Regions from separate parts of the Homo sapiens genome. Here region 2 is linked to region 1. A link means that fine-mapping ties the variant in region 1 to the expression of a gene that starts in the linked region. Tissue or cell type: monocytes after LPS. Region 1 holds a variant in brackets; the other region holds the start of a gene. All regions are shown on one strand. Distances are from middle to middle.

Evidence for each region. PIP is the estimated chance that this variant, and not a neighbour inherited with it, causes the effect. A credible set is the group of variants that fine-mapping cannot tell apart.
Region 2: it holds the start of CTSG, and the variant in region 1 is the best candidate, but not a certain one, in a credible set for the expression of CTSG in monocytes after LPS (Kim-Hellmuth 2017, PIP 0.82).

The regions. Positions count from the first base shown.
Region 1 is chr14:24,351,030-24,361,974 of GRCh38, forward strand. It overlaps the pseudogene LOC124903413. Among named protein-coding and RNA genes, the nearest start is that of NFATC4, 12 kb to the right of the region's middle. The variant TATATATAC/T (reference allele first, on the strand shown) is at 5,869.
Region 2 is chr14:24,570,491-24,581,435 of GRCh38, forward strand. CTSG (cathepsin G) reads right to left here and starts at 5,760. Exons shown (of 5, transcript NM_001911.3): 1 at 5,679-5,760; 2 at 4,775-4,922; 3 at 4,185-4,320; 4 at 3,755-4,009; 5 at 3,028-3,320. The coding sequence starts at 5,733. The coding sequence ends at 3,147.

The DNA of each region.
Region 1 (10,945 bases):
GCCACATAGGGAGACTCTGATTTTGCAAAAATAAATATAAACAAATAAAAAATGAAGAGGTTTAGTAGTGAAGGGAGGGAAAGAGATGGAAGTTAGGTTAAGTATAAAGAACGATCAAGGGAATTATCCATGCTGTCTACGATACCTGCCTGTTATTCACTTAGTGTTGGTATTCGTAATCAGATCGACTGTCCGGGTATCTCAGTGCTTGTGTTCAAGTAATCTTTATTTTACTTAATAATGGCCCCAAAGCAAAGAGTAGTGTTGCTAACAATTTGGATATGCCAACAAGAAACCATAAAGTGCTGCTTTAAGTGAAAATGTGTTAGCTGGGTGTGGTGGCGTACATCTGTAGTCCCAGCTACTTGGGAGGCTGAGGTGGGAGGATCGCTTGAGCCCAGGAGAACAAAGCTACAAGGAGCTGTGATCCCACCACTGCACTCCAGCCTGGGTGGCAGAGTGAGACCCTGTCTAATAAAAGAAAAGAAAATGTAACTTTGGCGTTCTTTGGCTGGAGTTTGGTGCTATCTGTGGTTTCAGGTCTCCACTAGGGGTCTTGGAACATATCCCCACAGATAAGGGGGAATATCGTATCTCTCTTTTGCCAGCTGGCATAGTGTTAAGCGCTGTCAGTAGTGGGTGCTGGAGGAACACTGGAGCAGGAAGAAGTCCATCTTCCTGGTTTTGGTTTGCTCCTTTGCCTTACTCCTGCAGCGTGTGCAATTTCTTCAGTGTACACTCAGGCAGTGCAAAGTGGTCAGCAGTGCCTAGCAGCCAAAAGCTTCCCCTGGCACATTTCTGGGTGACTTCTCAGCCTGTTGCAACTGCTAAGGCACCTCCCCATGAATAACTTGCTTTGGCATCTGCTTGGCCAATTTCACAGCTATTTCAGCCCTAGGAGTAGTGGGTTTTTCTTAAATTTGCTGTTCCTGTGTCCTTTGGAATTCTCATTTCTTCTTACTAGCTAATCCCTTAGTATGCCAACACCCTGTTGGAGTTAATGCTTCTTTATTTTATTTTTGCAAATAAAAATATGAGACACTCCATGAATTTGCATGTCATCCTTGTGCAGGGGCCATCCTATTCTTCTCTGTATCATTTTAGTATATGTGTTGCCAAAGTGAGCACAATACTTGTTTATATTAAACGTTCCTGTTTCAAATGACTGTGTGGTTTCTGTGTCCTGATTAAACCCTGACCGATACAGCTTTAGTCCTAGAATATAGTTCTTCAGGGACGCTAACGATATCCTGTGGTGTTTAACAGGTCCTTCCTCCTTAACAGGTCCTAAATTCCCATTTTTGTTTTCTCAGGACTGTAGACTACTGAAAGTTCTTCTCAGCCTCCTACCTCTTAGGCACTATCTCCTGCTGAGTCTGGCTGCCTCTCACAAATCGATAAATATCCCCCATGGGACAGACCATGCAGAATGTTGGCCTCACCTCAACATGCTTTCCCTTTCTTCTGGGACGTTGGCCCTTCAAAGCCTCCTGCCTTGATGAATTTCCACTGTCTTCAAACATATTTAAAAAAATTTGTACCCAGCTATGCAAAGGCATACAGAGTGGTATAATGGATATTGGAGACTCAGATGTGGGAAGGGTGGGAGCGGGGCGAGGAATAAAAAGCTATATATTGGGTACGTTGTACACTATTTGGGTGACAGGTGCACTAAAATCTCAGACTTCACAATTATACAATTCATTCATGTAACCCAAAACCACTTGTACCCCAAAAGCTACTGAAATAAAAATTTTTTTAATAACTGTACCCAGCTTTTGTAGTTGCTCTCAGAGGGTTGATCTGATGCAAATTAGTTGATCATGGTGAAGTCGGCTAGAGATAACTACAGATGGATAAAATGTTTGTGGAGCAGCAGCGAGGGTCCAGCCGAAGTTAGAAAGCAGTGATTTATTATGGAATCAATCATCATGATTGTGAAACTTTCTCCAGACCAGGAGGCAGAGAAATGCATGCTTGGCTTACCTCAGTTTGAGAAGTGATGGAAAGTTAAGGGCTGAGGAAATCTTGATTGCTTGTGAAAACACTTTTGAAATGGCTCACGTGGATCCCAGGTTGGACAGGGAGAGCACTAACGCTGGAATAGGGGGTTGTTAGTCTAGGAGAATAAAGTAATGGAAATCAGAATTGGTGAGGAGAGAGCAGGGCACAGAAACTCAAGGTTTGGGTCAAAAAGGGGAATTTCAAGGCTGGGCACAGTGGCTCTCGCCTGTAATCTCAGGACTTTGGGAGGCTGACGCGGGTGGATCATGAGGTCAGGAGTTCAAGACTAGCCTGGCCAAGATAGTGAAACCCTGTCTCTACTAAAAATACAAAAATTAGCCAGGCGTGGTGGCACATGCCTGTAATCCCAGCTACTTGGGAGGCTGAGGCAGAGAATTGCTTGAACCCAGGAGGCGGAATTTGCAGTGAGCTGAGATCACACCACTGCACTCCAGCCTCGGTGACAGAGCGAGACTCTATCTCAAAAAAAAAAAAAAAGTGTAATTTCAGAGTTTGGTAGTATGGAATGGAGCATTCCTAAACCCTGGTAAGTGGACAGTATGTTGCGTATTTTAAATTATAGATGTAAGGGTCATTAGATCGAGGAACATAACCTGGAGTATTGGAATAGCCTTAGTCCCCAGGTGGCTGGTAGGGATGAGGTAGAGAGACACCCTGAGCCAGGGGCCAAAGTCCACCAGAGGAGTCCTTTAGGTTGTCAGGTGGCCATGACTCAGATAGGGACAGGGTGGCATGAGTGAATGAAATGAGTGGCACAACCTTCAGAGGAGTTTCTAAGTGAAAATGATCAAGAGTGATTCTGAAAGCTGCTATGAGGCCATGGAAAGGAAAACTCCACTTTCTTCTCTGTTATGTGAAAGGATGGCCTGTCTGTGCAAAGGTTATGAGAGAATGTCCAGGTCTCAGGTAAGGTGAGAGGGAGGAAGTTTTGACTGAAAGATTTGGAGAAACAAGAAGTTACACCAATAGAACAGGGATCCGCAAGGTAGAAGGGGCAAGGTAAGAGGTTGAGATTGTTCCTGGGGAGAAGCAGGGATGGAGGAGAGAAGACAGCAGGCTGCATGATGGCGAATCATGCGGGAGAAGGAAGTATGTTAATATGAGCTAGAAGGGAGGAATAGCCTCCCTCCCTCCCTCTCCCCCTCCCTCCCTCCCTCCCTCCCTTCCTTCCTTCCTTCCCTCCTTCCTTTCTTCCTTCCTTCCTCCTTCCCTCCTCCCTCATTCAGCAAATATTTATTAACCACATGGAAAGCACAAGGCACTCTGTTATGCAATAGGGAAAGACACAGATGAATCAGAAATAGATTCTGCCCTTAGTTTACATTCTGAGAAGTGACATGATTTTGTTTTAAAGACATAACCTCTTTTGCTTGTTTAGTTTGTAAGTTTCCTTTCTATCTATTAGTTCATATGATGTGAATCTCTGTGGGAATCTACCTTTCTTTAAGGAAGCCACACTAATTAACTCTTTATAACAGGGAGAAAATAGAAGAAAGAATAAAAGTTATGATTATTTCTATTTGAAACAAGAAGAGGAGGCCAGGCATGGTGACTCATGCCTATAATCCCAGCATTTTGGGAGGCCGAGGTGGGTGGATCACCTGAGGTCAGGAGTTTGAGACCAGCCTGGCCAACATGGGGAAGCCCTGTCTCTGCTGAAGCATACAAAAAATTAGCCCAGCGTGGTGGCGCACACCTGTAATCCCAGCTACTCAGGAGGCTGAGGTGGGAGGATCTCTCTCTTTTTTTCTTTTCTTTTCTTTTTTTTTTTTTTTTGAGAGAGAGTCTCACTCTGTCGCCCAGGCTGGAGTGCAGTGGCACGATCTCAGCTCACTGCAACCTCTGCCTCCTGGGTTCAAGCTATTCTCCTGCCTCAGCCTCCCGAGTAGCTGGGATTACAGGCATGCACCACCACATCCAGTTAATTTTTGTATTTTTAGTAGAGATGGGGTTTCACCATGTTGGCCAGGCTGGTGTTGAACTCCTGACCTCAGGTGATTCACCCACCTTGGCCTCCCAAAGTGCTGGGATTGCGGTGTTCCAGGTGGCCAGGTGGGAGGATTTCTTGAGCCCAGGAGGTGGAGGTTGCAGTGAGCCAAGATTACGCCACTGTACTCCAGCCGGGGCGACAGAGTGAGATTCTTTCTCAATAAATAAATAAATAAGCAGGAAGAGGAAATGTAAGGGAAGGAGGTAACACTTTATTCATTGGACACTCAAGCAGAAAACGGAACGAAAGACACCACCCTCATGTCGGCCATTGGACAGGTTGGTAACTGGTAGTTTGCTTCTGTTTTTGTTTTCTTCTACCTTGTCTTTGACCAGCCCCTTAGCTGGCTGCTGTGTTTTGTTGCTGCTATACTTAGCAGGGTGGCCTACCTTCATTCTGGAGGGTTTTGAGCACTTGACAGTCCTTCCTATGTAGGCTTGTAGCAATCTTCTGCTAACCCTCAGCAGTGGGCATGGTGGGAAGCACTTAGAGGAGTGCCTGGAGTTTCAGGCATACCCTTTTGGGCTCTACTGCTTAGTAGTAACCTTTTTTCCCCATGATGGTTGGGGTCAATCACAGTAGACCTAAACAATACTGTGACATATTTTTGTTTTTCTTGTTTTGCCAGTTACTTAATTATTTAATTAAATTTATTTATTTATTTATTTTGAGATGGGGTCTTGCTGTTGCCCAGGCTGGAGGGTGGTGGCATTACCATAGCTCACTGCGGCCTCAGCCTCCTGGCTTAGGCAAACCTAGTGCCTCAGCCTCCCAAGTAGCTGGGACTACAGGCATGTGCCACCACGTCTGGCTAATTAAAAAAAAAATTTTTGTAGAGACAGGGTCTCACTATGTTGCCCAGGCTGGTCTTGAACTTCTGGGCTCAAATGATCCTCCCACTTCAGCCTCACAAAGTGCTAGGATTACAGGAATGCACCAGCATACCTGGCCTGCCAGTTCCTTTAATGGTACAAGGCCTAAAATGGGCAGTGGTAGGGGAACCACTCTCGAGTCCCCTGTGCAAGTAGTTATTCCTTGAATTGTAAAATCTCTAGAGAGTCATAGGGATTCGAAGCAAAACTGTGGAGATTGGGTCGGTGACAGCATTTGTAGAGATGAGACCACCCCTTGTGTATTCCTTTCCTATTGCTGCTGTAACAAATAACCATAAACTTAGTGGCTTAAAACAACACAAATGTATTATCTTACAGTTCTGTAGGACAGAAGTTCAACACTGGCCTCACTGGGCTAAAATCAGGCATTGACAGGGCTGTGGTCCTTCTGGAGGCTTTAGGAGAGAATCTGTTTCCTTGCCTTTCCAGCTCTTAGAAGCCACCCACATTCCTTGACTCATGGCCTCTTCCTAGATTTTCAAAGCCAGCAACTCTGCATCTCTCTGTGACTTTTTTTCCCACAGACACAGCTCCGCCTGACTGTCTTCTGTTGCCTCCCATTCCACTATCTTTTTTTTTTTTTTTTTTTTCGGAGATGGAGTCTCCAGCCTGGAGTGCAAGTGGCACGATCTCTGCTCACTGCAGCTTCTGCCTCCCGGGTTCAAGTGATTATCTGGCCTCAGACTCCCAAGTAGCTGGGACTACAGGCACGCATCACTACGCCTGGCTAATTTTTGTATTTTGGGTAGAGATGGGGTTTCACTGTTTGCCAGGCTGGTCTTGGTCTCCTGACCTCAAATGATTCACCTGCCTTGGCCTCCCAAAGGGCTGGGATTACAGGTGTGAGCCACCGCCCCCAGCCTATATATATATATAAATATACACACATATATATATACACACACATATATATACATACATATATATACATATATACACATATATACATATATACACACA[TATATATAC/T]ATATATACATATATACATATATACATATATACATATATATATACATAGATACATATATACATATATATATATACATAGATATATATTTTTTTTTTTAAGAGATGAGGTCTTGCTATGTTGACTGGGCTGGTCTTGAACTCCTGACCCCAAGCAATCCTCCTGCCCTGACCTCCTGAGTAGCTGGGATTATAGACATGAGCACTCAGTTTCCCCTTGTACTTTTTAGGACACTTGTGATTATATTAGGCTCATCCAGATAACTCAAGATAATCCCCCATCTCAAGGCCCTTAACTTAATCACATTTACAAAGTTCCTTTTGCCATGTAAGATAACATATTTATAGGTTTTTGGGAACTAAAACGGGAATATCTAATAATTGGGGGTTGGGGGTGGGCCATTATTCTGTCTGCCAAATCTTATTTCTTACAACCACGTATTCTGGTATTGGTTAAACAATCATATATATTAGTCACTAGATGAAAGTACAATGCACATTTAACCTCAGTATAGTATCTCACTGATGGTAAATTAAATGATTACTTAATTTTGCCACTCTATAGATAGGACTGTATGCACCAAAACCTCAGAGGATGTATGGGGCATTTGGAATTGGATAGGGGGGAAAGATTGAGCTTTTGCCCAATGAGACTCCTTCCACATTCCATCAAGGAAAGCTAGATGAGATCCTGAAGGACCAGGTAACAGTTCCTATGGAACACTTTAAAGATGATGAGGAATGTGGGATTCTAGGGCTGAATTTTTGTTTCCAATGGCATTGGATAGCTAAAGGTGAGAGAATAAAAATGTTAAACTCAGAATATCCACCTCAAAGCCCGGAAGAAAATAAAGCACCATTGCCTGGCACCCTTCTCTCTGCAGATATCAGCTAAAAACTGAATTCAGAAATTGATCTTGCACTGTAATCCCAGCACTTTGGGAGGCCGAGGCGGGAGGATCACTTGAGGTCAGGAGTTTGAGACCAGCCTGGCCAACATGGTGAAACCCCATCTCTATTAAAAATACAAAATTTAGCTGGGCGTGGTGGCAGGTGCCTGTAGCCCCAGCTACTCAGGAGGCTGAGGCAGGAGAATCGCTTGAACCCAGGAGGCAGAGGCTGCAGTGAGCCGAGATCACACCACTGCATTCCAGCCTGGGTGACAGAGCCAGACTCCGTCTCAAAAAAAAAAAAGAAGAAGAAATTGATCTTGCAAGTTGTTGAATTGCAGCAAAGTTTACAACCTCACCAGTTTTTTGCAGTGAAAGTAAGAATAATGATCTGGGGCTGGGCATGGAGGCTCATGCCTGTAATCCCAGCACTTTGGGAGGCCCAGGGGGGTGGATCATGAGTTCAAGACCAGCCTGGACAAGAGGTGAAAACCTGTCTCTCCTAAAAATACAAAAACTTAGCCGGGCATGGTGGCGGGCGCCTTTAATCCCAGCTACTTGGGAGGCTGAGGCAGAGAATGTCTTGAACCTGGGAGGCAGAGGTTACAGTGAGCTGAGATCGCGCCACTGCACTCCAGCCTGGGTGACAGAGCGAGACAATAAATATAGTCCCTGTTGAAACAATTTTCACTGTTTTCTTCTTGCAGAGGAGAGAGCGAAATCTGCTTTGCTATTATAGCTCAATTCCTTAGGCTCATCCTCTGACTAGGATAAACCAGAAGGTGGGAAGCAAAAACATCAAAATAAACAGGAATGATGCCCAGAAGGAGCCATGGGAACTTTCTAAGGCAAAATCTGGAGAATTCTATGTGACCATGAACATGAATGTTACGTGGTCATGAATTTAATTGGATCATGGATTTTATCCAAAAAGACAGAACATAATTTTAGAGTGGACCAAATTAATTGCACTAATGGTCTACAATGTATATTTCAAGTGCTTGGCCCACAACAAAGCTCAACATCTGCCCTTTTAAAAGTTTCAATGGGGTCGGGTGTGGTGGCTCACACTTGTAATCCCAGCACTTTAGGAGGCCAAGGAGGGCGGATCACTTGAGGTCAGGAGTTTGAGACCCAGCCTGGCCAACATGGTGAAACCCCGTCTCTACTAAAAATACAAAAATTAGCTGGGCGTGGTGGCACACAGCTGTAATCCCAGCTACTTGGGAGGCTGAGACAGGAGAATCGTTTGAACCTGAGAGGCAGATTTTGTGGTGAGCCAAGATCGTGCCAATGCACTCCAGCCTGGGCCACAGAGTGAGACTCTGTCTCAAAAATAAATAAATAAAAATAAAAATAAAAATAAAAAAACTCATTGGTCTTGCCTTTTGCCTGATGGTCCAGGAGAAGCATAGTTATTGCTGACACTAAGACCTAAGAGAAAAAGTGTCCCTGATCACAGAGTGAGCACTCTGAGTAGTTGCCATAGGTAACCATAAACAACATCTTTAAAATAGATAACAGTGAATCTCACAGAGCTGTTTCTTTTTAACTATGAAAAGAACTTGTTTTGTTCTGTGTAGTACAGAATGAGGGTAATTATGTAGTAGATCAAGAATATCCTACAGTACATGTAAAAATCCTGTGCATGTACTTCGTAAATCTAAAACAAACATTAAAATTATTTTTAAAAAAAGAAGAAAAAAGAATATCCTATAGTAGAAGAAAGAGACAAAAGAGAAAATATTGGTAACTGGAATCTATGGGTAATCCCAAAACCCCATTTCCCTAGTTTGCAGAGGCTGCTAGTTGAGTCCAACAACCTTTCTCGCCATCTTCCTTAGTAATAGATCCTGTCATTTTTTAGCCAGACATACGTCAACTTGGAATAAATACATTTTCTAGCCTCTGTTGCAGCTATATGTGGCCATGTGACTAAATTCTGGCCAATCGATAGTAAATATAAATGGTGTGTGGGGGAAGAGAGTTTGCATTTTTCTGCTTTTTCTCTTCTTGTTGGTTTAAACATGGATGTGACGGCTGCACCATAAGTGGTCATCTCCCATGCAGTGGGATGCTAAGGATGGTGCAGCAGTAAGACAGGAGGAGGTTGATAAGACCATATCTTGTCAACTTTTCAATCGTCAATCATGATCTTCATCAATCTTTGTATCCCAGAGCCTAGCATGGTGTATGGCACATAATAGATGTTCAATAAATGTAAGAGACTGAATATACAGATGGAAAATGGCCATATATAAAAATAGAACCCTGACCCACAATATGCAGCAATTAGTCCAAGAAACTAACCCATTATCTATCATGACCAGCCCAGGAAGCCAACTGCCTAAAAGTCATGCCTGTAATCCTGGCCCTTTGGGAGGCCGAGGTGGTCAGATCATCTGAGGTCAGGAGCTCGAGACCGGCCTGGCCAACCTGGTGAAACCCTGTCTCTATTAAAAACATGAAAAATTAACCAGGAGTGGTGGCAGGCACCTGTAGTCCCAGCTACTCAGGAGGCTGAAACAGGAGAATCGCTTGAACCCAGGGGGCAGAGGTTGCAGTGAGCCAAGATTATGCCACTGAAATCCAGCCTGGGTGACAAAGCGAGACTCTGTCTCAAAAAAAAAAAAAAAAAAAGTCAGACTTGTGAAAAGTCAGATCACTATCTCTAGCAACCAGCCCAGGAATCCAAACAACAACCCTTGCAAAAATCTGCTCCAAAGAGCCAGGACTTGATTAATAACTGACAGCTTTTTAAATTTTTGTCCCCTCTTCCAACTTAGGATCAATCAGAGAAAGCCAAATATGCATTCCTAACCAATCTTGTATGATGCACCATTTCTATAATATTTTTTTCTTTACTCCATTTTGCGGGTGAAATGATGCCCCACTTCTAGTTAGGCCACACATGACTTCCCCATGCCACAGCCTCCAGTCAGGGCATACCTGAAGCCTTCCCTTTGTCCACTATAAAGCTTTCCCACTCCTCTGCCTGCTTTTGAGTTTCTGCCAAAATGCAAGTGATGGTGGCTGACTAACTTGTGATAGAGAGCTCTGAATAAATAGTATTTGCCTGTTTTCATTGGTTAGCCTTCATTTATTTCCACAGGTATTTGCTAATTAGATCAATCAAAAAGTAAAGATGTAGGTAGAGAAATAAGACAAGGTACCTCTCATTAGAGAATTGCCACTCTAGTGGGGTACTCAGACATTAAATAAGTACTTACACAGTTATTTATTTATTTTGAGACAGAGTCTCACTCTGTCACACAGGCTGGAGTGCAATGGCATGACCTCAGCTCACTGTAATCTCTGCCTCCTGGGCTCAAGTGATCACCTGCCTCAGCTTCCCAAGTAGCTGGGACTACATGTGTGCACCACCATGCCCGGCTAATTTTTATATTTTTTGTAGAGATGGAGTTTCTCCATGTTGCCCAGGCTGGTCTCAAACTCCTGGGCTCAAGTGATCTGCCTGCTTCAGCCTCCCAAAGTTCTGGAATTACAGGTGTGAGCCACCGTGCTCAGCCTATGCAGTTATCTTATTATAATTGGGATGTGTGTTATGAAGATCTGAGATGGTAGCTGAGATGTAGAGATGAGTAGAAGGTAGTCAGGCAAAGGGGGTTGTGTAGAAAGAGAGATCTGGGCAGGAAAAACAGCATCTGCCAAGTACTGGAAGCAGGAAGAACTTGGTACATACCAGGAACTGAAAATGCCCAGCACCATGCAAAGGCTGTGCATCAGGTCTTGCTGACTAGTTCCCTAGAAACACTCTGGTTCCTATTCTTCCTGAAGCCTGACTGATTCTCCTTTTCTTTGGTTCTGTGAGGTCTGCCTTTATAATATTCTTCTTTTGCTTAAGTTACAAGAAGTCAGTTTGCGTTGCTTCCAAGCAAACGTCTCCTATTGATAGAATTGCTCTATTACATCTCTTGAATTATTTTTGTTAAGCTCTTTTATTATTGTGAAACTTTTCATGTGTTTACGTCTTATCTCCCAATTAGATAGTATGTATCTTAATGGAGCCACTAAATTTTGGGGGTGATTTGTTATATGGCATTTGTTCACACTTGAGTTCCAGGATCTAGGTGATGAGATCTAGGCTTTTGAGCCTGAGCTTGGTACCACAATGGGATGAGGCTTCAGGGTCTTGTAGGGTGGGGATGAGTATGGGAGGAA
Region 2 (10,945 bases), 220 kb after region 1:
ACTAATACAAATCTTCCTGAAACTATACCAAAAAATCAAGGAGTAGGGAATTCTTCCTAACTCATTCGATGAGGCCAGTGTCACCCTGATACCAAAACTAGACAAAGATACAACAAAAAAGAAAACTACAGACCAATATCCCTGATGAATCTAGTCATCCATGACCTTCTTTGTACTGTTGAGTAGCAGTTTCAGGCAACTGCAGAATCTTGTGGAGCAACACTTGAGATTCTGGAGTAGAGAGAGGTTTCTCATTTACATGTACATGTCAGACACAGTCCTGGCCTTGCAGGTAGGGCCTCTGAAGGCTCCACATGGAACGGGAAGAGGCAGAGCTCAACTCAGAATCTTCAGATTTTCCATCTACACAGACTCTTTCTTCTCTGCTCCCCCTTCTCTGGCCTTTGGTTGTTTGAAAAGGAAAATGGCTTAGTGTGGGTGAATGGGTGCGTGTGTGTGTGTGTGTGTGTGTGTGTGTGTGTGAGAGAGAGAGAGAGAGAAAGAGGAGAAAGACTTTCTCTTTCTGAAATATCATCACCTGACCCAATCCTTCTCCTTTTTGCCTTAGCTGTTGGGTTGGGGGAGAAGTTCCCAGTGAGGTTTCTGTGCCTGAGCTTACCATAATTTTATGACTTTCCATTCAAGTTGATAAGGCTTCTAACGCACAAAGTCTGCACGTGGAAAAAGAAAGAATTGTGTTCTTTTGCACTGGTTTTCATTGTGCAAAATGCTTTCTTGCCAAAGTTCTGCTGATGAGGTTTACTCAACAGGGAAGAGTGCAGATTTGTTAGAAGTGGTGGATCTGGCTTCTGGGATGGTCACCTTCTGGAGGTGAGTACCCTGGGGTCTGTAGAGACCTTTTCAGTAGGGCAGCAGAGACAAAGAGCTGCCTTGGAAGTGCTGACTGGCAGAGAAAGACCTGAAGATGAGATGAATGCCCTCGGGGCTTCCTGGGGACTGAGTCCTGAGACTGGGCAGTGCTCTGAGGCCCTAAGTAAATGCCACAGGGAGGAAGGGCTGAATGGGGGACTTTTCTACTAGCAAGTATTCTTTCCATTTGTCAGTGCAAACATTTAATAATGAGACTGTTATCCCCCAGAGCATGCCAGTAATAGATAATTCTTATGGGTAGGCAGTTAGTAAATACAGAGAGAATGACTGAGGATTGTTAAAGATGTATTATTGATTAAAATTTTGTTGATAAATGGCTTACACTGAATATTAGACAAATAACTTTCTGATAAGAGATACACATAAAATAATGGTCAAATTCATCAAAGCATTTCTGTATATAGCCTGTTGGATTTGATAAAATGTCTGTTCAGGGATTATTTCATTTAAGATTAGGAAAACTGCAAAAGTTCAGATGGTAAATGTCACACTGAAAGGAGTAATTAACATTTCTACTTACCTAGGAAAACCTCCTGACTGATTCTGTGTAGTTACTTTCAGCAGGTGTTTAAAGCTTAATTTTAAATTATGTGATTTCAGTAATCTTTTGTTTGAATATAATATTGATGTAGACAGTCATGGGCTAATCTTCAGGGCAAATGTATTGTTATTTAGGTCAACATTTTGTGAGGTGTTTTATATACCTTCAGAGTATCAAAAGTTCTCAGACAGATCTTCATCACATTGGTGAGGAAAATGCTGGCTTATAAGTACAGTGGGGTTGGTATAGCGCAAGGAAGGGCTATAAACCACAAAGTGACTGAGATAGGTCTCAATCTAACAGAAGTTTATTTAGCCAAGGTTGAAGATGCACCTGGGGAAAAAATACAAGCCACAGGAGCATCTATGACCTGTGCTTTTCCCTAAAGGGTTTTAGGAACTTCAGTATTTAAAGGGGAAAGAGCAAGCAGGAAGGTAAAAATGGGAGAGAGAGTAGGACTTCAGGCAGATGGTTATGTTCTTGTGAGGTTCTGATTAGCCTCAGTAAATCTACATCTTACACAAGATAAAGTAAACATGTGGAAAAGCAAGTAGAGGAAATGAGGTGATGCCACAGGATTGTGGATTATAGCTGTTTGGAAATAAATAGAAAGCAGTTTTTTTCCCCCCATGGGTCAGTTCCCAAGCTTAACTTTCCCTTTGGAATAGTGAAGTTTGGGTCCTGAGATTCTATTTTCTTTCACAAGGTTTAGGACAAGCATGCGGGCTGGTGATGGACGCTATGGTTCTTCCATCCTTGGCTATTGTGATTAATGCTGTTACTAACATGGGTGTTTGTTAGCTATTTTTAAAGAAGCAAAATCTCTTTAATTTTTCTTTATTCTAGTGCTTGTATGGTTTAATGTTTTTGCATTTAGATCTGTGATCCATTTGAGGTTTATTTTGAAGTATGGTGTGAGGAATGGATCCAATTATAGCTTCCATCCCCTCCAAATATCTATCTAGTTGTTCTAATGCTATTTATTAAAAATCCATTGTTTCCCAGTGATTTGAGATGCCACCTTTTTCATACACTAAAGTAGGTCTTTTTTTTTGGAATTTCAGTTCTGTCTTTTTGGCCTGCCAGTCTTTTTTTTTTTCTTTCTTGGAATGGTGTCTTGCTCTGTCGCTCAGGCTGGAGTGCATGGTTCACTGAAGCCTCAACCTCGTGGGTTCAACTAATCCTTCCACTTTAGCCTCCCAAGTAGCTGGGACTATAGACACATGCCACCATGCCTGGCTAATTTTAAAATTTTTGTGTAGAGACAGTGTTTCCCTATGTTTCCCAGACCTAATCCCCAATGTGATGGCATTAGGTGGGGCCTTTGGGATGTGATTAGGTCGTAAAAGCTGAGCTCTTTGAATGAGACTAGGTCCCTTGTAAAAGAGACATCAGAGAATTCCCTTGCCCCTTTTGCCATATGTGGACACAGGGAGAGGATGGTTGTCTGTGAACCAGAAAATGGGCCCTAATTAGACACTGAATCTGCTAGTGACTTGATCTTAGACTTCTTAGCCTCTAGACCTGTGAGAAATAAATTTGTTATTTATAAGCCACCCAATTTGTGCTATTTTGTTGTAGCAATCCAAACAAACTAAGTACTGAATGACGTTTAATGAACAAATGAGGAATTGGTTATTTATACTCTGTGGACGTTTATTAAGGCTCTGGCAACACTGTGGAGCTGGCCTGTGTCCCCGAGAAGAAGAGTCAGTCACAGGGGGGTCTCCATCTGATCCAGCAGTTTGAAGCTTCTCATTGTTGTCCTTATCCAGGGCAGGAAACTTGAGACCCTGGTGAAGACTTCTGGAGGAACCCCTGACGACTTTCCATAGGAGACGATGCCGTGGGCCACATTGTTACACAGCAGGGGGCCTCCGGAATCCCCCTGTAGGTAGAGAGGAGAAGGGAGACTGAGACAGGCCTCCCTGCTCCTGCTTCCCTGAGCTCCGGGCTCTCAGGGAAGGCAGGGGTGGGTGGGCCCCTTCAATTGCTGGGTGTGTGTGAGATGGAAGATCGGTGGGGTACAGGAGCCAAGCCTCTGGATCTTTTCGGTCGCTGGACTTCAGCTCTGCCTTAATTACTGTCTCCAGCCCAATCTGAGTCAAGGTACCTCTCCCTTCTCCAGGAGAATGTTGCCTATGTATGTGTTGTGGGTCTTCCTCCTATTCCCCCAGAGACCAGGTTGATGGGGAAAACAATCCCCAGCCCACCCTGGTCTGGCTGCCAGGCTGAGGCTGTGGGGATGGAATCTGTTCGCACTGCCTGGCTCTGCACGGGCCCCTCTCTCCCGGGGTGTGTTGGCCAATGCCCATGCCTTACCTTGAAGGCAGCCTTCCGTTCCCGCCGGTCCCCCACACAAATCTGCCTTCGGGGGTCGTAGGAACCGAAGATGCGGAGGCACTGCCTATCCCTCTGCACTCTCAGCTGCACCTCTCGGAGTGTATCTGTTCCCCTCCTCATGCTGACCCTGCCCCAGCCGGCCACAGTGCACAGCGTCCCGGGTCTCAGTCCCTCCTGGGCTCTAGGCAGAGCCACTGGGTTCACGTTTCGATTCCGTCTGACTCTTCTGCTCAGCTGGAGGAAGAATGTAGGCGTTCCCGCTCAGCTGGGGCCTCCAGCCAAGGCTCGGGGGTCGCTGGTGCAGTACACATCCCATGCCCTCCCCGCCACCCCGGAGCCTTGCCCTCACTTCCTCCTCCATTGTCCCCGGACACACTAGGAAGGAGCCAGAGGGCCAGGTAGGTGGTACCTGCAATAACATGATGTCATTCTGGATGGTCCGCTGATTATATTGAGGGTGGCGGATGGCTCTGCGCGCAGTGATGTGTTGCTGGGTGTTTTCCCGTCTCTGGATATTGTGGGCGCCCAGGGTGACATTTATATTGCTGCAAAAGCAAGAGGTAGGTCTGGGCTGCAGGAGCTATGGTCCACCAGCTCTGCAGGGTAGGCAGACAGCACGGGGAGGGCAAGACTGCAGCTAACCAGAATCGAGGGGATGGGAGGGCCCTGGGGCTCAGCTGTATCCTCTTTCTCAGCAGCTCTGAGCTAGGGATGACAGGGTGGTACTTGCCTTCAGGTTTGCTTCCCCAGATTAAGTTGATAAATAGCCTGAGTTTATATTTTGAGCCCCAATATGTGTCTTCCATCTCTTCCTCTTGCTCTTTTTGATCTTATCCTCCTTTCCTCCTCATTTACACTGGCCTGTTCCCTCCCGCAAAGACTCACTTGGTCTTTCTTTCACCCTTTCATTGCTACAACTCTTCTTTCAGATGGCTCTTCCACCGAAGAGCTCCGCAGGGCTGTGTTCCTGGCTGGCCAGGAAGTTCCTTAGCTCCTCACCTTCCCCAGCAATGAGCTGCTGTCAGCACAAAGTCTTCTCGCACCAGGAACCCTCCACATCTGCTCTGACCTGCTGGACTCTGGATCTGAAGATACGCCATGTAGGGGCGGGAGTGGGGCCTGCTCTCCCGGCCTCCGATGATCTCCCCTGGAAGGAAGCATTTGGCACTTAGCTCTATGCTTGCTGAACCTGCAATGTGGGTACCAGATTGGTGGCTCCAGAAAGGCTGGAAGATGGGGACGGCAGGAGAGAGGGTGCAGGAGAGGGAGGAGATGGTGCTGAGGCTTGGAGTCTATGGGGCAGCAGATTGGGAGGGGGCTCCAGGGTTCTACAGGAAACACTGCTGTCTTGAAAGGAGCCCTTTTCCCCATCCTAGGCCTCACCTCCCTCCTCCTCTCCAAAAGAGGGAGAACAACCCTTGTTCCAGGCAAGGCCAGCTTCAGCCTCAGGTATTGAGGAGAATGCTTTGCTGTAAGTACAGGATTGTTCCTGAAGTTCCCTTATACTTTTATCCTCATGGAGCTTCCCAGAGCCCTCTGAGTCCAATTCAAGACCACGTGGGACTGGTGTTTAAAAATCTAGACATGAGCTGATGGTACTGTTATTGCTGTATTCTTACCTCCTAGGTAGGGTCTGACACATGCTGCCAAATTATTTACACAAAGCATGTTTTTATAGCACTTATAGTGTGCGGGCAATTCCAAGACATTTAAATACTCTAACTTATTTAACTCTCATGGCAACTCTGCAAGATCGGTATTAATATTATTCTCATTTTATAGATGAGGAAACACAAATTCAAATAACTTGCTCAACAGTACAGAATTAGGATATACCAAGGCAATTTGGCTCAAGAATCTATGGGATGAGGTCAGGCCTCTGAGGGTGGGGATGGTCACTCACCTGCCTCAGCCCCAGTGGGTAGGAGAAAGGCCAGCAGAAGCAGGAGTGGCTGCATCTTTCCTGAAAGGCTGCCCAGTCAGTTGCTGCTGTGCTTCCTCCTCCTAGACTTTAAGGCCCTGAGAGAGGAAGGAAGGGGTGGGGACAGGGGATTGAGAATTCACAGTCCCATTCTCCTGCTACCATGAAAGGTTTCATCACCCAAGGCTGCTCAGGAAGTTTGCCCACAAACTGCCGGAGATGTGGGTGAGACCGTGTAATCCAAGCCAACATAGTGAGCTCTTGAGCAGCTGCTAAGTCAGTGCCGAGAGCAGAAATAGGAACCCAGCACAACAAGGAAGGGGCTTGGGGCATTGTGTCCAGAACCCTCAACCCATCAAATTCCAGAATACTCCAGCAAAGCAAGAAAGCTGGCAGCTGCCCACTTCCTGTTTTCTACTCCTCTGGGATTAGATCATTATTGCTTTTGAATTTCTGGGTTTCTCCTAATGAATGCAAGTTCCCTGGATTGCTTATCTGTATATACTTAATAAGTCTGGGACAAGGATGAATGAAAGGGTGTGGTGTGGTGAGGGATGTGGGTAAGAACATCAGGAAAAAGTTGAAGGGGGCAGAAGAGGAAAGGGTAAGCCTGCCTGCTTTCAGTGTTTGGCCCAAGACCACCCTGCTGAGACCCCTGTTGCTCTAATTTCTTTCTAGAAGCTGTCAAGTCAGATTGCGTAGGCACTCTCCTGAGTAGGTGAAGCGTGCGGCTGGAGAAAGAAAAGGAAGAACAAGGCTCTGACAATCACAATTACTTTCTTAGGTCACTTGAGTCCTCAGTGAAAATTGTGACACAATTGAAGACTTCTGCTTGCCTGTCTCCTACCCAAGGTTAAAGTCCTTATGTTCCAGACGGCTCCTTGCTTGCAGAAAAGGCTTAGTAATTTGGTTTTATTGGGAGCTGTCGTATCCTAGCTGGAAAATATCTAATATCCCATTTCACTGGTGACATTAGAGGCCCATCAACCTAATCCCAGGAGCAAAAGCTTCTGAGAAGGAGGTACATTCATTGCTGTGCTACCTATAAAAGAATTAGAGCCGCATACTCAACAATGGGAGAAAAGAACAGCAAATTACTGCAGAGTAACACAATGGATTATTAAAAACACTTAAAATATTTAGAAGATTCTGTGTATGCACAGAAAACCGTTATAATCCAGTATAATTTTTGCAGAAATAGCAGAATTGAAGACTAATACAATTCCCAATCTCTTTTTTTCTGTCTTTTATTTTGAAAATCTTTTACTTAGGTATTTATTTTTAACTTTTATTTTAGGTTTGGGGGTACATGTGAAGGTTTGTTACATAGGTAAACACATGTTACGGGGATTTGTTGTACATATTTATCACCCAGATATTAAGCCCAGCACTCAATAGTTATCTTTTCTGCTCCTCTCCCTCCTCTTACCCCACTGTCTGTTGTTTTCTTCTTTGTGTTCACAGTTCTTATCATTTAGCTCCCACTTATAAGTGAGAACATGTATTATTTGGTTTCCTGCATTAGTTTGCTAACTAACATGTATTATTTGGTTTCCTGCATTAGTTTGCTAATAGCCTCCTGCTCCACCCATGTCCCTGCAAAGGTCATGAGTCCATTCTTTTTTATGACTGCATATGTATATGTACCACAATGTATATGTACCACATTTTCCTTATCTGGTCTATTGACGGGCAGTTAGATTGATTCCGTGTCTTTGCTTTTGTGAATAGTGCTGCCGTGAACATTTGCGTGCATGTGTCTTTATGGTAGAATGATTTATATTCCTCTGGGTAAATATCCAGTGATGGGATTGCTGGATCGAATGGTAGTTCTGCTTTTAGCTCTTTGAAGAATCACCATACTGCTTTCCACAATGGTTGAACTGCTCCCACCAACAGTGTATAAGTGTTCTCTTTTGTCTGCAACTTTGCCAGCATCTGTTATTTTTTGGCTGTTTAGTAATAGCCATTCTGATTGGTGTGAGATACAATTCCCAGTCTTTATGGAGTATAATAGGCCCTCTTGAAAATCTCATGAAAATTAGGGTTCCTTTCCTTATACATAAATATATAATTTTTTCACTTATTTTTAGAGCTGCACAGAGCTTAACCTCTTCTCTTGTACAGGCTCTATAAAACGTCTTTATGCATCTGAAAAGTAACGTGAAGAAGAAGGGAGCAAAGAGAGAATAGTATAGCACCTTTATTAGTGCCTTAGCATTTGGCATAATTTAATTTATTAAAAATTTTCAACATTTTGTTTTGTTTTAAAAATGTTAGTTTAACTTAAAAATAGAAGAAAGGGATAAAGAAAAACCTGCACATATGAAAAAAAAGGAGTAAAATATATGCATTCACTCATGTAATAAAGATTGATTAGGAAATTTCATTAATAGTGACCTAGAATTTCATGCAATCTTCTCATTAAAAGTAATCAAAGCTATTTAAGATATCTAAAAAGCTTACAAACCTCGAAGAACTACCAGCATTGAAGTGACTATCAGATCAAGTTGAAGGAATAATGAGAGTCTAGTTAGGAAGCTGCTATTGTTCCAAGGGAATGTGCTGAATCCACAAAATTTCAACTTTTGTTTTTGATGACCACATTAAGGAGAAATCTGTAGAAAATATTTAAAGTATGCTATATAGTTTCTTCTGAAGAACGGATGCTACCCTTCCCTTTATGGGACTAGCATAACCTCCATGCCAAACCCAATAGAGACAATATAGAAATGAAACATTATAGGTCAATAAACTTTTGAATATTGATGCAAACCAAATCAATCAATAAGCAAATAGATATTAATATATCATAAGTAATTTGGGTTTATTCTAGGAACACATAGTTGACTTTTCATTTGAAAAGCAAAATTGCTGTAACACATCATATGAACTGACTAAAGAAGAAACATCATGTGATTATTTAATTGAAACAATGAAGGCCTAAAATTTACCCTTATTTACTTAAAAAATACTCTTAGCAGACTAGGAATAAAAAGAGTGTCTTTAATCTGATAGAAGTTATCACAAAATTCCCACAGCAATCATTATACCTAATGGAAAAGTGTTAAAACCTTTTTTTGAGAGCAAAACATTACAATAATGCCTGAATACAAATTATTATCAGTTCTGTTCAACAAACAGTACATTAGCAGTTTTAGCCAGTGCAGTTAGGTAGGAAATGGAAATGAAAGGTATAAAGACAGGAAAAGAGAAAACAAAATTGTAATGATTTGAGGAAGTGATAGTATACGTAGACAATCCAAAATCATCTACAGGTAAATTACCATAATTAATAAGAGTTTTACAGATTTGCTAGAAAAAATCAATTTAAAAATTAATCATATTTCTACATGTACTGCAACACTGTTAGAAAGAAATTTTTAGAAAGTAATACTTAAATGGCATGGAAATGATCAAATAACTAAATGTAAATCTAAAAGAATATGTGAAAGACCTCTTTGGTGAAAATTATAAAACTGAATGAAGAGACATTCAAGAAGACCTAAACATGAAGAGATTCCATGTTCATAGATTGGAAGAAGACTAAATATTGTAAAAATGTCAGCTCTCCCAAAATTGATCTATATAGATTCATTGCACCGAGCGGTATTTTATAGAACTTAACTGATTGTAAGTATATTTGGAAAACAAAAGGCTAATGATAGCCAGGTCACCATTAGAGAATGAGAATAAGATGGAAGACTTGCTTTTGCAAACAAAGCCATGGGAATGAAGATAGCGTGGTATTGATGAGGCATAGAAACATGGACTAATGGACCAGAAATAAGGACTCCACACGCATGTGGACGCTGACATACACATGGATGGATTGATTTATGATGGATGTTGCATCTTTCATCATAATAGGGAAAAGACTATTTTCTTTTTTTATCCCCAATAAATGGTACTGGGATAATAAATTGCCTTTATGGTGTCCTATAGAGACAAATATTTTCTATGTGGAAAAATAAAACTTGACCTTCTTCTCCCAAAATATCAAAAAACCTATTCTAGGTAGATTATGGATCCAAGTAGGAATAATGATTTGAATATATAATGGAAGAATATCTTCATGATAGGTAAAGATTTTAGTACTGTATATAAAGTACTAATAATGAAGAAAAGGACTGATGAATTTGACACATCTAAATTGAGAGAAACAAAAGACCATTCATGGAGTAGGCAAAGATGCTTGAAATACACATAAACAACAAAGGGCTTATATTCAAATTACATAAAGAACTCAGAAATCTGGCCAGGTGCAGTGGCTCACCCATGTCCCAGCACTTTGGGAGACCGAGGCGGGTCGATCACTTGAGGTCAGGAGTTGGAGACCAGCCTGACCAACATGGTGAAAACCTGTCTCTACTAGGAACATACACAAAAAAATTAGCCAGGATGGTGGCACATACTTGTAACTTCAGCTACTCGGAAGGCTGAGGCAGGAGAATCGCTTGGGGAACTGGGGAGGCTGAGGTTGCTGTAAGTGGAGATTGCCTCACTGGGCAACAAAGTGAGACTCTCAAAACAAAACAAAACAAAAACTTGCAATGAAGAAGACAATTAACTTAATAAAACAATAGCCAAAAGACTTGAACAGTTTTATCTCAAAACAGGAAATCGAAGTGGTCAATAAACATGAAAAAGTGTTACTCTGACTAGATATTAGAGAAGCACCCATTTGAAGCACAATGAAGGCCACGTATGGTGGCTCATGCCTGTAATCCCAGCACTTTGGGAGGCCAAGGTGAGGGGATCACTTGAGCCCAAGAGTTCGAGACTGTGTGTGATGGCATGTGCCTGTAGTCCCAGCTACTTGGAAGGCTGAAGTGGGAGTTGAGGCTGCAGTGAGCCATGATTGTGCCATTGCATTCCAGCCTGGGTGACAAGACAAGACCCTGTCTCAAGGAAAGAAAAAAGAAAAAAGTGCAATAACAGTTGCAGCTACCATGTTGGCTCTTTTCCCAATCCTAGGTATATACCCTAGAGAAACATCGGGTGCAAATTTCTACCAGATACATGTCCAAGAAGGTCATAGCAGCATGTTCAAGATAGCCTCAAACTGGAAACACTTCGAAGGTCCACTAACAGCAGCATGAATAATCAAATTGTAGTATATTCATATAATGGAATATTGCATAGCCATAAAAATAAAACTCTTCCTTCATGCAGCTATGCAAATGAATCTTACAAGCATAAGTTAAAAGAACCCAAGAAGACAACTTTAATTTTATTTATATAAAGTT